Linked DNA regions of Homo sapiens: region 1 is linked to region 2. Evidence: fine-mapped expression QTL. Tissue or cell type: whole blood. Region 2 holds a variant in brackets; the other region holds the start of a gene. All regions are shown on one strand. Distances are between the middles of the regions.

Region 1 (8,099 bases), 200 kb after region 2:
GTATAGGACCAGTGTCTTATTAATATGATTAATATATTTAGAAGAGCCACGTGAAACCCATGACAAAATGAATGTGAATATTCTTTCTAAAAATTTAGAAAATGTTATCTTTTTGCATTTATTATGTAAAACTGTTTTACAGTATCAAAATTTTTCACTTAAAGAAAAAAAATGCCATGAAACATTTGAACTGATGAGCCACAGAACTTCAGTTGAAATTTTTTTCACTTTTTAGCATGCTAAATATACATCTGAGTTTAAATGTTCTGTTTAATGGCCATTCATAAATTCAAGCACTACCACTGGTCAGTTTTGTGTGATAGAATAAAAATATGTTACCTGCAGTGTAAGTACAGCACACTGTCAAATTCTTTTCCTTAAGGTGCACAGTAAATGTACAGATAGTTATAGGCCACTGTTTTGTAATGTAGTACATTTCTAATCTATTATTCCTAACCTATTATAACTGTTTGCAGAAAGAAAAGAATTTTTCTAATAATCTGTAAAATTATGCTAACTTCTACAAGTAGGCTTCTAAATAAAATTTTTAAAAAGAGCAAACGGTGATCAAGTGACTTTTAATACAATATGATGACTAAATTATTGCTAATTTGTTTTAATCCCCCCTTTTGTGGGGATAGGGATAGCTGCAAAGGATGGCAAAGGGCTTGAAAGGGATTCAACAGTGAGAATCCCTGAAGTATGCTTTGCTTGGTGCCTTATATTCATTCTTCTCGAATCCTCTATGAGAACCTTAGGTGGACGTTAGCCAGATTTTATACATGAAGATGCTGAGGCTCAGAGAGGTTGAAAGTCTCCAAAAGCTGCGGAGTAAGAGTGGTAGCCGACTCTTACTTTAAGAGTAAAAGCACAAGTTTGAATCTGTATCTCCGTGGTACACTTAAATAGAACTCTAATAGCACTTCACTTCTAAATGTCAGGAATATAATCCACTGCTTGAATCTATATTGAGTAATGTAACCCCTTTGTTATGAGTAGCACCACAAAAAAACCCTACTATTAAACATATACGAAATCCATATGAAAGGGTTTTTTTTTCCCCCCTCAGATCACCTATTAGTCCATACTGAGTCAACATCAGATGAGTTCCGAGACATCATTCCTCTCTGGTTTTCCCCCACCCTCCTTTCTTCCCATTCTTGCTCTCTGCTCAGGGTCCAGTTGCTTCTGGCTGTCATTTGGTTTGGTTTTATTAATTGGGGAGAAAAAGATGGGAGGGCCTGCCGGTTCCTCCTATCTTGTTCATAGCAATAAGGATTAAGGAAAACGGCCCCTCATTGTCCAACCTCGTGAAACATCTACAAGATCATTTTCTTGCTAATACTGGCATGCTTCGACTCTAGATGATGTATGTTGTGCCATTATGCTAGTTGAATCTTCTGCATCTCACAAAATATCACTTGTGGGAATAATAAACCAGGAGAGTGGTGACCTACCACAGTAATTTGGTGGGTGCGTCAGAGGCATCTGAACCAGAGCAACTCCAGTAATTTGGTGGGTGCGTCAGAGGCATCTGAACCAGAGCAACTCCATCTTGAATAGGAGCTGGGTAAAATGAGGCTAAGATCTAGGCTGCATTCCCAGATGATTAAGGCATTCTAAGTCACAGGATGAGATAGGAGGTTGGCACAAGATACAGGTCATAAAGACCTTGCTGATAAAACAGGTTGCAGTAAAGAAGCCAGCCAAAACCCACCAAAACCAAGATGGCCACGAGAGTGACCTCTGGTTGTCCTCACTGCTATACTCCCACCAGCACCAAAGACAGTTTACAAATGCCATGGCAATGTCAGGAAGTTACCCTATATGGCCTAAAGAGGGGAGGCATAAATAATCCACTCCTTGTTTAGCATATCATCAAGAAATAACCATAAAAATCGGCAACCAGCAGCCCTTGGGGCTGCTTTGCCTATGGAGTAACCATTCTTTTATTCCTCTTTCTTAATAAACTTGCTTTCACTTTATGGACTCGTCCTGAATTCTTTCTTGCATGAGATCCAAGAACCCTCTCTTGGGGTCTGGATTGGGACCCTTTTCCTCTAACAGGTGTAATATAAATATCTGTTGAGTGCTAACTATGCCAGGCACTATGCAAAGTGTTTAGTGAACATTCTCCACCTACTCAAAACCTCTTGAGATTTTTATTTTGTATATGTTATCTCCACTGGTTTTTTTGGCGGGGATTGTTTTGTTTTGAGACAAGGTCTCGCTCTGTCGCCCAGGCTGGAGTGCAGTGGTGCAATCTTGGCTCACTGCAACCTCCCTTCCCGAGTTCAAATTATTCTCATACCTCAGCCTCCAGAGTAGCTGGGATTACAAGCATGCACCACCATGCCCAGCTAATTTTTGTATTTTTAGTAGAGACGGGATTTTGCTATGTTGGCCATGCTGGTCTTGAACTCTCGGCCTCCTGTGATCTCCCACCTCGGCCTCCCAAAGTCCTGGAATTACAGCCATGAGCCACTGCGGCAGGCCCATTGTTTTTAAAGATGAGAAAAGCAGAGATCAAAGAGGTTACTTGGTGAATGCCACAGGTAAGGAAATGACAGAGCAAATCCAGGTCTGAATCCAAAGCCCATGCTCTCAAGTGCCTGTGTTTTAGGCCAGGCAAGGTGGCTCATGCCTGTAATCCTAAAACTTTGGAAGGCCAAGTTGGGAGGATCACTTGAGGCCAGGAATTCAAGATCAGCCTGGGCAACACAGGGAGACCCTGTCTCTACTAAAAGAGAAAATAACCAGGCGTAGTGAGGCACAAAGCGACTTGAAGGCTAAGACAGGAGGATCACGAGCTCAGGAATGCGGAGCTGCAGTAAGCTATGATCTCGCCACTGCACTCCAGCCTGGGCGGCAGAGTGAAACTTCATCTCTTAAAAAACAAAAAAAATGTTATAAGAGACAGTATTTTCTGTCTTTGGGTTATATACAATAATCCTTGGCCATGTGTTTTAAAGCATACTGTTGATCACCGACGTGATTAATGGATTTAAATCTGCACAGCGGCTCATGCCTGTAATCCCAACACTCTGAAAGGCCGTGGCAGGTGGATCATTCAGGTCATGAGTTCGAGACCAGCCTGGTCAACATGGTGACATCCCCATCTCTACTAAAAATACAAATATTGGCGGGGCACAGTGGCGTATGCCTGTAATCCCAGCTACTTGAGAGGCTGAGGCACGGGAATCGCTTGAGCCCGGGAGGCGGAGGTTGCAGTCAGCCGAGATTGCGCCACTGCACTCCAGCCTGGGCGACAGAGCGGGAGTCCATCTCAAAAAATAGAGACTTCGCATCATTTCTGCTTAATATATTTGTGGTGTCTAGAGTTTTATTGTGATACCTGAGTCTAGGAAATGTGGTAAAGCCTCTGCAGCAGACATAAAGCCTGCAATTCATGGCTGTGGCCAGGCTCTCCTCACCTGTCCTGCATCTACAAATTATTTCCGTTATGGTAAGGAGAGCAACTCGTGGGGAATGTGGACAGGAACATGCGTGAATCCAAGGCAGAGGTTTTGCCCCGGAAAAAGCAGCTTCTGGCAGGGGATGAAAGCCAGCAGAGTTCCAACCGGGGTGCCCTCTCCTTCACGCAGGCCCCACTACCGTGTTGACTTAGGAAGAAAGTTTCTCGGGAGACTAAGGGATTTGGGGGCAGCGGACGCCACTGGAGGGAGATGAATTCACCTAGGGAGCCGGGGAGGGGCTTAGGGTTGCCGCTCCAGGCACAGCTGCTGGAAATCCTAGTCTGTTTTTTCTGCCTTCGCGTACAACGGGCCAGCTCACCCCACCTGGCAAAGCTGCAGGGCTTTTCCACCAGGCGGACAGAAGGGCAGCCCTCTCGCCCAACCAAGAAGCCGTGCTACCCCGGCTTCGACTCCTGGCTTCCGGGTTTTCTCCCCGCCTATTCCGTTTCCGGCCGTTCCCACCCCTGTTTTCGGTCGGCCCGGGTGTTCTGCAAGCTGGTCAAAAAGGGGAAGCGGCCCAGATATGTTAAGTTCTATGGCCGCTGCAGGGTCTGTGAAGGCGGCGTTGCAGGTGGCCGAGGTGCTGGAAGCCATCGTGAGCTGCTGCGTGGGGCCCGAGGGACGGCAAGTTTTGTGTACGAAGCCCACTGGCGAGGTGCTTCTCAGCCGGAATGGAGGCCGCCTCCTGGAGGCGCTACACTTAGAGCATCCCATAGCCAGGTACCCGCGTCCCACACGCTAACCCGTAGCCGGGCACCCCAGGCAGCCTCTGTGGAGCTCTTGTCCCATCCTGAGGCGATGCGTACTTAGAAAGACTGACCTCGGGTGAAACCGCTGTATGCTCGGAATTAGAGCCCTGCCCAAGGGAACACTCCTGCACCCCAAATCTTACCAATTCTCAAGACCACTTCTCCCCACTCCACCCAACGGTGGAATCTTGGAATAGAGCAGAGTTTTTTCCAAGAAAGGAAAAAACTAAGGATGTATCCAAGGAACAATATTCTCATTTTATGCTTATGGCTGTGTAAACATGGTTTTAAGATGTGGGAAGCCAGCCTTCTGAAAATGAGTTGCTTTATTTCTTTTTTGTACAGGATGATAGTGGACTGTGTTTCCAGTCATCTCAAAAAAACAGGAGATGGTGCAAAAACATTTATTATCTTTCTTTGCCATTTGCTTAGAGGACTTCATGCAATCACAGACAGAGAAAAGGATCCTTTGATGTGTGAAAACATTCAAACCCATGGAAGGCATTGGAAAAATTGTTCTCGGTGGAAATTTATTTCCCAGGCTCTCCTAACGTTTCAGACACAAATATTAGACGGTATTATGGACCAGTACCTAAGTAGACACTTTTTGTCTATCTTTTCGTCTGCTAAAGAGAGAACATTGTGTAGGAGCTCTTTAGAGTTGCTCTTAGAAGCATACTTTTGTGGAAGAGTGGGAAGAAATAATCATAAATTTATTTCACAGTTGATGTGTGACTACTTTTTCAAGTGTATGACTTGTAAAAGTGGGATTGGTGTATTTGAGTTAGTGGATGACCATTTTGTAGAGTTGAATGTTGGTGTCACTGGCCTTCCTGTTTCAGATTCCAGGATCATAGCTGGTCTTGTGCTTCAGAAAGATTTTTCTGTGTACCGCCCAGCAGATGGTGACATGCGAATGGTGATAGTAACAGAAACCATTCAGCCTCTTTTTTCCACTTCTGGATCAGAGTTTATTCTAAATTCAGAAGCACAGTTTCAGACATCTCAATTTTGGATTATGGAAAAGACAAAAGCAATAATGAAACATCTACATAGTCAGAATGTAAAATTGCTCATATCTAGTGTGAAACAACCAGATTTAGTTAGTTATTATGCAGGGGTGAATGGCATATCAGTGGTTGAGTGTTTATCATCAGAAGAAGTTTCTCTTATCCGGAGGATCATTGGTCTTTCTCCATTTGTACCACCACAGGCCTTTTCGCAGTGTGAAATACCTAACACTGCTTTGGTGAAATTTTGTAAACCTCTTATCCTTAGATCCAAAAGATATGTTCATCTAGGCTTGATAAGCACATGTGCATTTATACCACACTCTATAGTTCTTTGTGGACCAGTGCATGGTCTCATTGAACAACATGAGGATGCTTTACATGGAGCACTTAAAATGCTTCGGCAATTATTTAAAGACCTTGATCTAAATTACATGACACAAACCAATGACCAAAATGGCACTTCAAGTCTTTTTATTTATAAGAACAGTGGAGAAAGTTATCAAGCACCAGATCCTGGTAATGGCTCAATACAAAGGCCTTATCAGGACACAGTTGCAGAGAACAAAGATGCATTGGAAAAAACTCAAACATATTTAAAAGTACATTCTAATTTGGTAATTCCAGATGTAGAATTAGAAACATATATTCCGTATTCAACCCCCACACTGACACCAACAGATACATTCCAAACAGTTGAAACGCTGACATGTTTGTCTTTGGAAAGAAACAGGCTAACTGATTATTATGAACCATTACTCAAGAACAATTCCACTGCTTATTCAACAAGGGGAAATAGAATAGAAATTTCTTACGAAAATTTACAGGTCACAAATATTACTAGAAAGGGAAGCATGTTACCAGTGAGCTGTAAGTTACCGAATATGGGTACTTCCCAGAGTTACCTTTCCTCATCTATGCCAGCTGGTTGTGTTTTGCCAGTAGGTGGTAATTTTGAGATCTTGTTACATTACTATCTTCTCAATTATGCCAAAAAATGCCATCAATCAGAAGAAACCATGGTTAGTATGATAATAGCTAATGCACTTTTAGGCATTCCCAAAGTCCTTTATAAATCTAAAACAGGAAAGTACAGCTTTCCACATACATATATAAGAGCTGTCCATGCACTGCAAACCAATCAACCCTTGGTAAGCAGTCAGACAGGTTTGGAATCAGTAATGGGTAAATACCAGCTACTAACTTCAGTTCTTCAGTGTTTGACAAAAATATTAACCATTGACATGGTAATCACTGTTAAGAGACACCCTCAGAAAGTTCACAATCAAGATTCAGAAGATGAACTATAACATCAGAAGTTTTTAATTAACCAAACTTTTCATCTAACTCAAGCCAAGTAAAGCAGTCATGTGACCACTGGTTCTAAAGTCAGTTCAGTCTACTTAGGAAAATAGCGTAACTTTAAAAGTCTTTAGAAGAAGCACACTAAGGTCACCAGACCAGATACAAATATTAAATTACTTTATGGAACAAATCTAGAGGGGAAGCCAAGATTTGGCTAAGTGTGTCTGTTTTTTCCCTATTTTATGCCTCTGTGTCTCAGCTCTGTGTTAGCCTATGTGTTTAGGGGAGGGTTTTTCTTTATAGCTCCTTTTTACTCTCCTGTATCTTTTTCACTCCAGCCCTCCTTCATCGTTACATGTTTAGTTCATAGAATCATTTAATCTCTGATTTGGGTGGGCTTATTCTAATTGTTTTTAATATTGAATACATTATTTGCATTAATTTTCCCTACTCATACTTTGTAAAGCTGAGTAAAAGGCTCAAATTATTTTTTTCAAAAAGCATAAAATTAAATTAGCAGTGAGTAAAAGGCTCAAATTTTTTTTCAAAAAGCATAAAATTAATTTTTACTTTTATGTGGTCATTGGTTTACTGCCACTTCATTTGGAAAACTTGGATAGATTTTCACCTTTGATATACCTTTGAATATATGTTACCTGAAATATAACTGTGCATTGTTAACTCTTTCATTTCTGTAGTAAAAGGTTAATACTAGAAAGGATATGCAATTAATACTTTGATTTTCTCCTGACCCCAAGAGCTTGTAAGGATATGTCATGTATTTACTGGTTTTTCTTGTATCTGGTGCATAGCCAGAGTTCCACAGTAACAAATAATTTGACAATTTTTATTTCTAATGTTTATTTCTGTTTTATTTTTAATTTTTATTTCTAATTTATTTCATTTACAAATGTTCATATTTTAAAAACTTGTCAATGTAAATAATATGATGCATCTTATCATGGACAAGGACAGTGTTTTCTACCTTTATCAGTTCTCTGTAATACCCAAAACAGTGCTGTATTTACTCCAAGTATTCAGAAGTGCTTGTTGAACAAAACAGTGTTATCTTTAATTCATTCCTTTAAATACATGTTTCCAGTTTACTTATTCAACAGATTCTTACTTGGGATTGACTGAAGAAAAAAAACTTTAATTATAGTTGAATAAGTGTTGACTAATGTATTTTAAAAACTATAATATCAAAATTTTTTATATTAAATGTAATTCTGATTTTTTAAACATTTATGCTATATGATGCATTATTTTGTTTCTGTGAATATGGAGAGAATAAATTAGCTCTTTTGCTGAATTCATGGATGAATGAACTTTAAAACTGCTGCATAATTTTTTTCATTTTTTTTTTAATTGCCTTTCAGGTCATTTGGTCACTTTGCTTTTTTTGTGGTTGTTTAAAACACTCCTCCATTACTGTAAGCATTTAATGACTTCCAGACATGCCCAGTGCTTTGCATATGATAAGCATTTAATAGGTATAGTCACTAGTCCAGGAGCCCTGTTGAGGTAGGACTGGGTCTTTGTACGTTTGGCACTTGGTC
Region 2 (8,108 bases):
AAAAGACTAAGAAGAGTCTTGAGCCTTTTTATTATACAAAGACTAAGAAGAGTCATCAAATGATAAGCCAGTTACCTACTAATTTCCATATTCAAAAAGGACTGAAAAAAAGAGGAAATGGTTTCAGAGCTTGACTTTTTTCAAATAAAAAGGAGAAGCTTTTTGATTTAGAGTTTTTGAAAACTTGATAGATTCAGAGGGAAATTGTTATAGGTCATATTAATAGCTAATGTGCGTCAACTGCTATATACCAGGTACTGTACTACTCTAGAAGTACTTGACATGTCATCACATTTGATCCTGACAACCACCCCGCAATCAGGCTATTTTCTTTTTTTTAAACCTGAGCAACTGACAGATTAAATAAGTGGTGGAGCCAGGATTTGAACTAAACCTGAGGCACAGAGAAGTTAAGTAGTAGGTGGTAGAGCCTACTAAAAGGATTTAAACTTGAGGTTTAACCTGACCTTTGACTTTGGAGCCTATCCTTTTAACCATCATATTATATACTGCCTTGTATAATTTATTTGCAGTTGCTCCTCTTGATACGTCTTGACCTTGTGATCTTCCTGAGTCTGTTTTAGTTGTGTCATTTACAAAATGCACTTTACTTTATAAGAAGATGGAATATAGCCTTGATTTTTTTTCTCTCATTTTACTTGTATTTGACTGACATCCTATTTTTAAATCTTAAAAATACTTAGAGTAAAGCAAATATTTATTTTATTGTTCATCCAGTTGCCATTTTCTCACTGGGGAATTTCAGAGAATTTCGGAGTAACTGGAAATTAAAGAACATAATAGATAACAGTATTTAAAGCTAAGTTGTTATAATTAAAAAATAGTTTTAAAGAATAAGGCTGATTCACAGAATTGGTATGCATTTTTTTTTAGTGTTTTTTTTTTTTTTTTTTTGAGATAGAGTCTCACTGTGTCACCTAGGCTGGAGTGCAGTAGTGTGATCTTGGCTCACTGCAACCTCTGCCTCCCGGTTTCAAGTGATTCTCATGCCTGAGCCTCCTGAGTAGCTGGGATTACGGGTGCATGCCACCATGCCCAGCTAATTTTTTGTATTTTTAGTAGAGATGGGGTTTCACCATATTGGCCAGGCTGTTCTCGAACTCCTGACGTAAAGTGATCCACCTGCCTCGTCCTCCCAAAGTGTTGAGATTACAGGCGTGAGCTACCTCCTCTGGCCTTTTTTTTTTTTCTTCTGATACAGGGTCTTGAGCTGTCACCTAGGCTGGAGTGCAGTGGCACTCACTACCATGGCTCACTGCAGCCTCGACCTCCCAGGCTCAAGTGATCCTCCTGTCTCTGCCTCCCAAGTAGCTGGGACTACAGGCGAATACCATCACACCTGGCTAATTTTTAAGTTTTTTTTTTTTTTTTTAGAAACAGAGTCTCACTATGTTGCCCAGCTTGGTCTTGAACCCCTAGCCTCAAATGATTCTCCCACCTTGGTCTCCCAAAGTGCTGGGATTATAGATGTGAGCTGCCATGCCAGGCCTATTTAGTGATATTTGAGGGACACAGATCTGTACAGTTGAAATCTGTCCTGTTGAGATGACCACCAGTAAGGTAATTTTTGCTTTTTGGCTGCCAAATGCCTACATATTAGCAGGAATAGTTTGTCAGATTACATAATTTTTTACAAGGAAGGCTGGGGCCCATGTGGAAATTATGGAATCTATGTTGGTATATTTTGATGGGATGGAAGTATGGTAGATCTGGAGAGAGAGAAGTTCAATCTAAGTAACATTATTACCGGGTAGAGTAATGAGGTGGGGTGCTTTGGATGTGAGGGCACAGGTACATTGTTCAAGTGGAGAGTAGGATGAGGGACTTCTGGAGACTAGCTTTGCTTAGTGTGTAATTTTGTGCATTGTTATGATTATAATAACTTGTAAGATCAGCAATTTGGAAGTAAAGAAAAGCAGTGCTGTGCATCATAGTGTGGAGTTTGTAATAGTTCTAGGCTGTTTTGCAAGATGTAGGTGCTTTACAAATATCCATTGGTAGTAATGGAAGTGCTCTGTCTTATCACCTATTTTAGAAATCTGGAGAGGCAGAATAGCACGAACCCTGGAGCCAGACTGCCAAAGTTCAGAACTGGTACAGCCACTTACTAGCCTATTGCACTGGCCCTATGCTGACTTGGGGTGGCCAAAAGGGAAGAAAATGGCATATTTAAGCAGAGAGGGGGCCAGAGATAGCACTCTGTGAGTTTTCCATGGTTCTTACATGGTCTGAAAGAGATCTGGATGTTCTCACATATGACTAGTGAAGGAAATAGAAGTTAGTAGAGTGAGAGCCAGGAAGCCTGTCATTAGGCTGCTATTGTGAGGGAGGGACCATGTAGTAGACAGAGGTTGTGGGAAGGGCAGATTCATTTCATTGCCCACAAAAATTTGTGCTCCCTCTTGCTTGCAACATTTTTTTTTTTTTTTTTTTTTTTTTTTTGGAGACATGGGGTATCGCTCTGTTGCTCAGGCCAGAGTGCAGTGGCAGGATCTTGGCTCACTGCAACCTTCGCCTCCTGGGCTCAAGTGATTCTTGTGCCTTAGCCTTCCGAGTAGCTGGTACTACAGGGATGTGCCACCGTGCCTGGCAAATTTTTTGTATTTTTGGTAGAGATGGGGTTTCACCATGTTGCCCAGGCTGGTCTCTAACTGCTGAGTTCAAGCGATCTGCCCGCCTCAGCCTCCCAAAGTGCTGGCATTACAGGTGTGAGCCACTGTGCCTGCCACTAGTTTTTCACTAGTGAATGTGAATAGAAATCAATTTGTTGTCACTTCTGGGTTGAAGTGGCAGAAAAAATAGGTATTCTTTCTTCACCTTCTCTTTTCTAATTCAAGGGCCAGATGCAGAGGTTTAGGCTCTTAAGGGATAGTAAAACCATAAGATTGGAATGTTCTACAGTCCCTAAATTTACCATGTGAAAGAAATTTGTGTACCAAATAGGAATACCCACAATGGATTGTAATATTAATGAGAAATTTTAATTGTGTGAAGCTACCGAAAATCTGGGGTTTATTTGTTAAGCAGCTAGTGTTGCCTTAAGTATAAGCCAGGGACTGGATAGACGAGGTAGTCGAGACTGTAATAATATCCGTACCAGCAGGAGCTGAGGTGGGTGGGGCCAAGTTAGGAGATCCTCTGGATACTGTTCCAACATATTCATCAGCATGTGCCATTGTGACTCTGTGAGGGCCAATATTCAAACCTTAGAGGCCTGTGAGGATCCCCAGGGCAATCCATGGGTCTGTATTCAGGCTAATCATAATACTCCAGATGCCCATGAAAGCTTTATCTTACGCCCAGTCACCATGATAAGAATGAGGAACAGAGAAAATCTATACAAGTCTGAAGAGTTTTCTTAAAGTAGGGTTTCTTAACTTGACTCTGTTGATATTTTGGGCTGGATAATTCTTTGTTGTGTGTTCCTGTGCATTGTAGAATGTATAGCACCATCCCTGGCCTCTACTCACTAGATGCTAGTACCATCTTTCTTAATTGTGACAATGAAAAATGTTTCAAGATATTGCCAGATGTTCCCTGGGGACAAGGTCACTCTCAGTAGAGAACTACT[G/C]CTTTAAAGATTGAGTGAATGAGTGAATCTGAAAGAAATGATTTTAAATGGAAAGAAACTATTATCCTTAATTAAAGAACTTTTTCCCCTTTTAGGGGTTGGGTAAGGTTCATGGGGAGCAGTTCATTTCTGTATATCCAATAAAGGAAGCTATGTTGTTTTTATAAAACATCCTAGTTTCTAGTGTGTGTGTGTGTGTTTTCCTCTCTTCCTTGATATACTATATATATGTTTGTATTATTTTTTGAGTGACAGAGTCTCCTCCTGTCTCCTGCACTCCAGGCTGGAGTGCAGAATTCCTGAGCTCAAAGGATCCTCCTGCCTCACCTTCCCCAGTAGCTAGGACTACAGGTTTGTGCCACTGTGGCTGGCTACTTTATTTTTTTTGTACAGACAGGGTTTCGCTATTTTGCATAGGCTGAATTTGAACTCCTGCCTCCCAAAATGTTGGGATTACAGGCATGAACCCTGGTACCCAGCCTTAATGTTGATTCACCTTTCTCTTTATCAGCTTTAGAAATTACTTGAATTTTCCATTTATTACCTTGTGATTATTTCTTCTAAACCAGTAGCTGTACTTTTTATTGGCTAGACTAAGCTTGTCCAATCCCTGGCTGGTGAGCTGCGCACGGCCCAGGACAGTTTTGAATGCGGCCCAACACAAATTCATAAACTTTCTTAAAACATAAGGAGATTTTTTTGTTTTTTAAAGCTCATCAGCTATTGTTAGTGTTAGTGTATTTTATGGGTGGCCCAAGACAATTCTTCTCTTCCAGTGTGGTCCAGGGAAGCCAAATGATTGGACACCCCTGGCCTAAACAAATACACGTTTTTTCCCCTGTAATCTCAGCTGTCATGTCCACAGGTTGTCTCTAAATTATGAAAACCAATAAATAGTGTTGATACCATGACTGTGTAAGTATTATTTAATGCTAAGCCAGATAATGTGCTTAGATGATTATTCCTTTTCTGTCCCTGGGCTGCCAGAAGAAACATGTTGATAATATAGAGAATTAGTAGACTTTATTTATTTTATCAATTCTGACCATCAAATTAAAAAAAAATTTGGATATGACCAAAATCTAACTTTGGAATTAAAAAAGTTTTTGAATAGGACTTCCTGTTTTTCTTAGTGTCTTAAATTGCCCTCTTTTCTTGTACTATATGCCTCTATTATAGCCTCCCCTACACCCCAGCCCCCCCACACCCCAACTCTTCAGCATACTGCCTTTTGTGCTGCATTCTCTATTTATCTGTATTTGTCTGTAACTCTGCCTCCATTTGGACTCTTCTAGGTCTTTTCTTGTAACTTCCTTTCTCCTTACTCTTGAATTGGATCCATTCTGTTATACATATTTTTTTTTCCTTTTTTTTTTTTGCATCTGCTTGATCTGTTTATTGGAGTACATCTTCAAATAACTCTTTGAAAAAGAAGTATGTATGAGAGGCAAACTTTCCGAATTCTGTGTAAAAAAGTCTCCATTCTATTCTCACAAATGATTGATAATTTGGCTGGGTACAATATTGTTAGTTAGAAATAATTTTCCTTTAGAACCCTGAAAGGATTGCTTTGTTGTCTTCTAGCATCTAGGGATGCTGATTAGAAGTCATACATCAACGCCTGTAATCCCAGCACTTTGGGAGGCCGAGGCGGGTGGATCATGAGGTCAAGAGTTTGAGACCAGCCTGGCCAACATAGTGAAACCCTGTCTCTACTAAAAATTAGCTGGGCATGGTGGCAGGTGCCTGTAATCCCAGCTACTTAGGAGTCTGAGGCAGGAGAATCACTTGAACCTGGGAGGTGGACGTTGCAGTGAGCCGAGATCAAACTACTGCACTCTAGCCTGGGTGAGACTCCGTCTCAAAAGAAAAAAAGAAGGAGTCATGTATCAGTCTGATTCACTATCCTTTTAAGGTGATTTGTTCTTTATTCTGTCTGAAAACTTTTAGAATCCGTTCTTTTGTATCTTCTACAAAGTCATAATGAGGTGTATAGGTCATTTTTGTTTTGTTTGGCTGTTTGTCTAGATACTCAGTTGCTCTTACAGTCTGAATCAGATTATTTTTCCAATTCCAGGAAACTCTTCTCTGTCTTTAATAATTTCCTCCCTTCATCATGTTTTTTGCTTTTCAGTAGGCAGTTGCTTTCTGTCTTGATCTTCCTTCTCTCATCTTTTATATTTTGTGGGTTTTTTTTCCCCTTTAGTATTTTGGCTGATTTTCCTGGGGGTAATCTGTAAGTTTTGTTGTTCTCTTTTTCTTTTCCCACCATTTTTACACTATGTTGTATTGTCGTCTTGAGTCTTAGAATGTGCAAATTAGATTTTTTTAAAGATACCTTGTGTCTCCTTGTGTCTAATTTATCTCCTTTTCTCCTCCGGTCAGTTTTTATGTTTGTTTTTGTAATCATTCTTTTTTCATGCTCAGTTTTCCTTATGTGCCTGATAATTCTTGGTTGTCCATTCATGGTTAAGAAAGACAGACTAGGTTCCTGGTCACCCTCCCTCCCCTGTTCCTTGGACTGTTTTCCCTATTAGATTTTTTTTTCTTTGAGTAGGAATTCTGGCCAGAGCACTTTGTGGGGCAAGGTAGTACAGAGTAGGATCTGTCTCTTGGCAGATTGTTTTAGGGTAAAAGAGAGAGGAGCTAGCTGCTAGGCTATGTATGGGCCCTTTAAATGCTGGATGAGATGTGTTTACTCTGTGCCACACCTCCGCTTAGCTTTCCCTAGATAGTGGTTCACTTTCTTTAGGGAAAAGCTGACTTGTTTTTTTGCCTGGAGGTAAAATGTCAGTTGTTTAGAAACTGCTTGGAAATAGGGGATGGGAGATATAGCTGTCCCTTATAGTTAGTCAAGTAATACTCAGTTCTCTTATTTTTAACCCTACTATTTATTTCCACCCTCTGCTGTACCATTTACTTTATAATCATGCTTTCCTGGGGATCTTCTCAGACGTATTGGTTCCCATCCTTTCCATGTCACTCTTAAAGGTTATAATGAGGCTGTGGCTTTTTCCGCTTGTTATTTCTATCAATCTCACATATACTTTCATTTCCCAGAAATTTGTTGGATTTTCTTTCTAGCCTCAATTTTAATTTCTTTACTGTTACGATTTTCTTTCTTTTATGAGTTGTTTTTATTTCAGTGGAGTATCTGGAGTAACTGAAGGGAAAGTTTGTATTTAGCGCCCCATCTTTTATTAGAAGTCTTCTTCTAGCTTCATAAACAGAAGAAACAGAGCCTATTGAACTATTTTTTTGTTAATGCAGATTTATTCATAGAAATTATGATGATCATGATACAGTGTTAAAATACACTTATGTCCCTTCACTATTGATTTGTATAGTTGTTTGTGCCTTTATGCCGCTTGGTCCTAAAACTTGAACTCTGAATTCTTGCTTGCTTCATAGTTTTTGTTTCCCCTTTCGTTGTCCCCTACCCCAACTTGCATGTTGTTATGATTATCTTGCCATTTCTTGTTTGCTACTTGGAAACTGAATGAAACTGTTTAGAATTGTGTGTAAAATAGTGACTTTGCTCCAGGGAATGGCATTTTAGCTTTAAACACATGACCCTTGTGGCATTTTAATTATTTGGAAGTCTTTTGTTCTGTTTCTCAAGTGTATCTAGATGGGTGAGGGGTTATTCTTTTTCATTTACTTCTCTGCCTCATGTGTGATAGCTACTTTGGTTCAGTAGTTGATATTTTTTCCTCCATTGCTTTTCCTTGTCTTCTGTGTTATCTTTGGTACTTTAAATGTTGAGTTTAGATTGCCTGGCAAGTTCATTGGAAGCCTTAATTTTCATTTGTTCCTTTCATTTTCTACTCATAAAAATTTGCTAGCATTGTTTTATTCTTTTTTATTGTTTTGTATTTTTTGTTTTTTTGTTCCTAGCATTGTTTTAAACTTGTCTTTTACTTCTTTTCCCATACTCCTTTTCATAATCTTCAGGCTCCATATTGATTGAGCTTAGAATACTATTGTAAATTAACCTGGGTAAATAAATTTAAATACATTCATCTAATTTCCCTCTCTTCTGTGATATTTCTGCATTGGCAGAATGCAAATCTTGTTTAATTCTGCTCTTAATCTTGTTTAATCGTTTTCAATTCTTTTCTCATAAGATTTTGAAGTTCTTTCTTCTACAGCTATGGTTTTGACTATTGGAATGTGTGTCTTTTGTAATTGGAGTCGTAATTCTCCTGCAGTCAGAGGTTTTTACACGCCAGATTTAAAAAATGCTGACTACTTTGAAGTTGAAAATCCTGTCAGAGGGGTTGTGATTTGGAAGGCTTAAATCCCCAAATTTGGCCTGATTATATAAGGTATTATAGAACTTTCATAGTAAATACTGTACTTGTTTGAAATTTAAAGTAGCTTAGAAAATAATTGGCCCCTTTACATTTTTTTTAAATTTGCTCATTGTCCAGGAAGTCAAAGTTTTAAATATTTTCTAATGTAGTGGACTGATTACTGATGATCTTGTTACCTTTCTCTATATTCTGTGAAACTA

What was found. PIP is the estimated chance that this variant, and not a neighbour inherited with it, causes the effect.
Region 1: BBS10 starts here. The variant in region 2 is fine-mapped to the expression of BBS10 in whole blood (TOPMed, PIP above 0.99).

The regions. Positions count from the first base shown.
Region 1 is chr12:76,344,259-76,352,357 of GRCh38, reverse strand. It overlaps BBS10 (Bardet-Biedl syndrome 10), which reads left to right and starts at 3,943. Exons shown (of 2, transcript NM_024685.4): 1 at 3,943-4,196; 2 at 4,571-7,884. The coding sequence starts at 4,000. The coding sequence ends at 6,545. OSBPL8 (oxysterol binding protein like 8) reads left to right here. Exons shown (of 24, transcript NM_020841.5): 24 at 1-561. RefSeq lists enhancers at 3,542-3,591, 2,738-3,687, 3,688-4,637.
Region 2 is chr12:76,546,784-76,554,891 of GRCh38, reverse strand. The region is part of intron 1 of OSBPL8 (oxysterol binding protein like 8); the gene reads left to right. Among named protein-coding and RNA genes, the nearest start is that of OSBPL8, 8.9 kb to the left of the region's middle. The variant G/C (reference allele first, on the strand shown) is at 3,593.